Regions from separate parts of the Homo sapiens genome. Here region 2 is linked to region 1. Evidence: fine-mapped expression QTL. Tissue or cell type: blood mononuclear cells. Region 1 holds a variant in brackets; the other region holds the start of a gene. Each region is shown on its reference strand, or each on the opposite one.

Region 1 (2,918 bases):
TGATATTGCCAATTTCTTTGTCTCCGTTTGCAGAAGTTGTAGCAACCTGTGCAATTTCTTCAGGGGTGGTCACAAATTTAGACTGCTTTCTAAGTTCAGCAATTACAGCATCAACAGCCAACATCACACCTTTCCTGATTTCCACTGGATTAGCACCTTTGCTAATCTTCTTGAAGCCCTCCTTGGCAATAGAGCGTGCCAGTACGGTAGCAGAGGTGGTGCCATTTCCAGCCTCTTCATTTGTGTTATTAGCAATATCTTGAACAAGTTTAGCTCTAATTTGTATCTATCCTTTAAGTCAGTTGACTTTGCAACAGTCACACCATCTTTTGTTACTTGGGGACTTCCCCAGCTCTGCTCAATAATCACTGTTCTTCCCTTTGGCCCCATCGTAACAGCTACAGCATCGGCTAAAAGGTCTACACCTTGAAGCATTAAGGCTCGGGCATCTGCGCCAAATTTTACATCTTTGGCATAAGCCCGAGTGAGATGAGGGGCCAGTACCCTGGACAGCAGTCTCATCTGGGGAAAGACTGTGGGTAACGGAAGAAGCATTTCTGCGGGGCGGCTGCAGGGCGTGTGCGCGACGAGGCAGGTCGTCGTCCGCAAGTGAGGGTGTTTTACATTTTATATGGCAAGGTAAACCACATTAAATCACAGAATTTTATGACAGCAAGATCACCTAATCCAATCCCTGCTCATTTCGCAGATCGGGAAACTGCTAGTTGGTGACAGAAACGACTCAAAATACAGGAGAGACGTTTTTACCTTACCTTCAGCTGTCTCTCCCCAGAACCCTTATTTGATAAAATGCTTCTCACAAGCTACTGAATGAGTGAGTGGAATGAGCTTTGTTGGAGATCCCAGAATTGAGTCATTCTAAAACATCATTAGAATTATATGAAGTTTCACTTTATTCCACAAGGATTTGTTAGAGTGCCCATTGGCCAGAGGTCTAAATCACAGCCTTTTCCCTCAAGGAGCTTAAGTAGATGCAGTGAATGAATAACTAGCCAATTACAACTTACAGGACACAGTACCTTGAAGAGAAATTGGAGAGGGAGTCAATTCCTAGGATAGCAGAGAGATGGACAACAGACAGAATGTGAGTATTAAAACTGATGTCAGATATCAAATTGGTTTGTCAGGGTTATGTTGATAATCACAGTACCTATCATCTTCCTAAACTTTTCTTGTCTTGATAATGTGTAATATACGTAAGTGGTGGTGGGAGAGACTATTGCAGCCACTAGACTTGGTATATTCCCAAATTATTTTTATTCATAAGTAATTACTATTTGCCATTTGTGGCCTTTTGTGCTTTAATATTATCAAGAACAATAAGAATGATAAAATATTTATGATCAGCATTGTAATTGCAAACAGGCCTCAGTAAAAATTATACACAACTTGTTTTGAGCGAATTTCCTTGAAAAGAACCATGGCTATATAG[G/C]TGTGAAGAGTAACATAGCGTAATATATGAATATACACAATAATAGCTATTCTTTTTTTTTTTTTTTTTTTTGAGACAGAGTCTTGCTCCTGTCGCCCAGGCTGGAATGCAGTGGCGTGATCTTGGCTCACTGCAACCTCTGCCTCCCAAGTTCAGGCGATTCTCCTGCCTCAGCCTCCCAAGTGGCTGGGACTACAGGTGCATGCCACCACGTTGGCTAATTTTTGTGTGTGTGTGTGTGTGTGTATTTTTAGTAGAGATGGGGCTTCACCATGTTAGCCAGGATGGTCTCAATCTCCTGACCTCGTGATCCTCCCACCTCGGCCTCCCAAAGTGCTGAGATTACAGGCGTGAGCTACTGCGCCCGGCCAATTTTTGTATGTTTAGTAGAGACGGGGTTTCGCCATGTTGGCCAGGCTGGTCTGGAACTCCTGACCTCAGGTGATCCACCCTCCTTGGCCTCCCAAAGTGCTGAGATTATAGGCGTCAGCCACCGCACCTGGCCATAATAACTATTCTTATAGAGCAGACTATAGAGTGTAACTGTCATTGTACTTGCATACTCTTTTTTAAATTATTTTTTCTATTCTTTTATATTTTACTTTATTTTATTTTATTTTATTTTATTTATTTTGAGACTGAGTTTCTTGTTGCCCAGGCTGGAGTGCAATGGCGCAATCTCAGCTCACTGCAACTTGCACCTCCTGGGTTCAAGCGATTCTCCTGCCCTGGCCTCCCAAGTAGCTTGGATTACAGTCATGCACCACCATGCCCAGGTAATTTTTGTGTCTTTAGTAGAGGCAGGATTTCACCATGTTGGCCTGGCTGGTCTCGAACTCCTAACCTCAGGTGATCTGCCTGCCTTGACCTCCAAAAGTGCTGGAATTACAGGTGTGAGCCACCACGCCCGTCCTATACTTGCATACTCTGAAAAGACTCACAAAAGGTATTAAGCAACATATGAGCCTTTGGAATGGGTTGGAAGGTAGGATAGACAGCATCTAGTGGTTAAATTACATAATGCCTAAAGTGAAGGATTTGCGACATGTGATCACCTCTGGGAATACTCACTAAGCTTGCTTTCTGGGAACTCACTGGCATCTTAAATGCCTTGCATCTCAGACTCTCAGATTTTTTCCTGAACATTTTAATAGACATACTTAGAGAAGCAGAGCATACTTAGTGAAGGGTAGCAGTTCCTCTTCCTAAGGAGTCAACACATTTTAAAGATGATAGGTTTACATGACAATTGTTAAGACTGTTTTGGAAGGACTTTAGAGGAAGCACTGTAAAAGCAAGATATGAGGCGCGGTGGCTCATGACTGTAATCCCAGCTCTTAGGGAAGCAGAGGCAGGAGGATAGCTTGAGCCCAGGAGTTCGAGACCTGCCTGGGCAATATAGCAAGACCCCATTCTCCACAAAAAGGAAAAAATATAATAATAAAGAAAATAAATAAAACAAGAT
Region 2 (2,918 bases), not on the chromosome of region 1:
ATGCCATCTGTCTATGCTGACATATGCTGAGGTTTCCTATCAGCTGCCCGGTCCGTAGGCATCAGTCCACATGGTTTGCTACCAGCATGTTTCCTATCAACATGTCCCCTTTGGTCTGGCCCAGTCTGTGCTAGCACCTCATACACAGGCAATAATTCTGCTGCTACTGCAGTATGCTGGAGCCTGGGGACCCTTGGAGGTTGTTTAAGCCCATTTATCTAAAGCAGAGGGTCTCAAACTAGCAGCCTGTGGCCACTTCAAATATGCACATGTTTTTCAACCTGCATGATTATATCAGTTATTTATCACTGCTTAACAAACCACCCCAAAATTTAGTAGTGTGAAATACACCATTCTATTTGTTCCCAATTCTGTGGCTCAGCAGTTCGGGCCAGATTTAACTGGTGGTTCTTCTGCTGGTCTTGCCTGGGATCACACATGTTCTGCAGTCACCTGGCAGCCAGACTGCCTCATTCACATGTCTGGCAGTTCCTGTGGGGCTTGCAGGGCTGTTGCCTGGACCTCTGGAGGCCAGCCCAGCTTCTCTGCACTGTGGTCTCAGGCTGCAAGAATGGGCCCTGTCCTAAGGCACAGGCATGTTTCAAACTCTGTGTCATGTTTGCTACTAGCCAAAGAAAAAGACCCTACCTCTTGATGGGAGGAACAGCAAAGTCACATTCAAAGGGGCACACATACAAGGATAGGAGGAATTGGAGCATTTTTTGCCATCTACCACAGGGTGGTTTCTCTGTCTCTCTCACTCTAATTACCAATGGTTAAAAATTGGAGCTTCATCTTATCTTGAAAAATCAGCTAGCCTACTTTATTCACTTACACTTCCTCCCTCATCTGTTGGCATTTGAGTTGTGATAATGCCTAATTTACAAGATTGTTTTTGTGAAGTTAGATATGGAAAAATCTGACAAAAGCAGAAACTCAATATATGTTTTCTCCTTTCTGAACACCACTAGTCATGAAGCTGCTACCTGCCAATGACCAAGGAGAGCGGCCAAGATGAAGAACAAGGGAGTCATAGAGGAGGTGGCTGGAGAATAATCCCTTGGTCTGTTTTAGAAGTATAGAGGCATTAGGAAACAAAACTCTTAAAGAATTTATAAGAAAACTAAACGTACTTTAAGAAATTAAAAGGAGCAGTAGGAAACATATCAGTTTGCTCTAAGTGAAATATCTCAGGCTCTGAATGGTTCACCCAAGAACCTGAGCTCATTCCTGGGAGGCACCTGCAGAAAACTGGTTCTGGTCCTGGTCCCTGTCTTCAGGTGGCTGTGTGTAAACATCTTACCCCAGTGTACACATCTGCAGCTGGTAAATGCCTGGGGGTTTTCTCACTGCTCTCCAGGAGACTCAGCACTGCCCTGTTCCTTCCTAGCCTGAGTCAGGACTGAGCAGAGAATCCTCCACCACACACAGCAGGCACTATCTGCCACAGTTCCTTTCCCCGATAGCTTCAAATTCTCTGCCTTTTGAAATAAGCCTACTTTTAACTGGAATAAATAATTGGTCAATCTCTACCTCAGGTGAAGAGGAACCAAGCCTCTGGAAACACTTAGGAACAAACTGTAAAAACCAAAGGCAATTGTGTAACCGGTTAAATAAGCTTGCTGGACTTTGTCCCTGTGTATGAGTTAGACAATTCTTTCAGCTAGTTTGAGTGACGCACTGACCAGTGAAGCGCAGTGAAGCAGTGGGAACCGGAATATCCAAAGAGTGGTTTGAAGGAGAAAGAAGCATTGTGGCTTTATATCCTCTGGGCCTGGGTTTCCTGAAGTCACCACACATAGAGGAGAGAGAAAATGGCTGAGTTAAAGGTAAGAAACCATCTGACAAGTTTGCTATGGCTTCTTCAGCCAAAATTTATGGAAGTTTCTGAGAACTTCAGGGTATCAGAGTTGGAAAAGACTTAGAGAGGCCCTGGTTCAAACCCCTGTGTTCAGAGGCTTCCCTGTGGTGTCTGTGGGCACAGCTGGAGCTGAAGAACAAGGGAAAGGTGATAAAGGAAAGAAATGAAGCTCTTATTGGTCATCCCTTGCCTTTGTTCATTTCAATTATTGTCTTGGAAATCTGTAGACATCCTAAGAGCTCCCCTCCACTACGGACATGCACGTTTCTCTCTATGTCTTTTTCCCAACCCCTGCTCTGACACCTTCCCATTGCTGCAGCCTCATGGACCACTTCCGGTGACCAGTTAGATATGCTTGATCTATTTAGTTAATTAAGGCTCTGAATCAGCCCTTGGCCAGAAGAAGCACCTCCTCTAGGAAATCATTCCTTCTTTTTAGTAATACGCAATTGAAAAGTATGTGTGGGTTATGTGCTGTTAGGTGCTAAGCATTTTAGCTATGAATTAACTCATAATCCTCAAAATAAATCTGGGGTATAGAGAGAGGTTCTTGTTTCAATTAGAAAAGTAATGCTTGGAGAGACTATGATTTGCCCAAGGTCACTGCCAATAGATGACTTGATTAGAAGCAGGGTATGTTTGAATGCGAAGTCCAGGCTCAAAAAGGGGCCTTAGTGGCTCCTACTAGACTGGTATCTTAAGGCAAGGAAAACAGAATATGTCCCTAATATCTAAAACCATGCCTAGTGCCCAGGCCAGGCTTGAATCAATGCTCAACGCATGCATGTGTAACTGAACAGAACTGCCCAGAACCTTGGCTCAGGCCAAGTAGGCCAGACCACCCCACAACAGACATCTTCCCTGAATGCAGGGTTTGAGAAGTGCCCTAATGCCCTCTAACTGATGCTGAGTTTGAAGAATCCATCAGTTAAGGGGAGGTGTTTCTGAGTTTGAAGAATCAAACACCTTCCTAATTGGTAGGAATCCTGAAAACACTCCACACCGGAGTAAAAGACTTTGGTTTTTTATCTTTATGCCTGACTAAAAGTTAACTCTC

Evidence for each region. PIP is the estimated chance that this variant, and not a neighbour inherited with it, causes the effect. A credible set is the group of variants that fine-mapping cannot tell apart.
Region 2: it holds the start of HGD, and the variant in region 1 is the best candidate, but not a certain one, in a credible set for the expression of HGD in blood mononuclear cells (TOPMed, PIP 0.50).

What each region holds. Positions count from the first base shown.
Region 1 is chr12:8,012,658-8,015,575 of GRCh38, reverse strand. It overlaps the pseudogene HSPD1P12. Among named protein-coding and RNA genes, the nearest start is that of FOXJ2, 19 kb to the left of the region's middle. The variant G/C (reference allele first, on the strand shown) is at 1,454.
Region 2 is chr3:120,681,008-120,683,925 of GRCh38, reverse strand. HGD (homogentisate 1,2-dioxygenase) reads left to right here and starts at 1,687. Exons shown (of 14, transcript NM_000187.4): 1 at 1,687-1,829. The coding sequence starts at 1,815.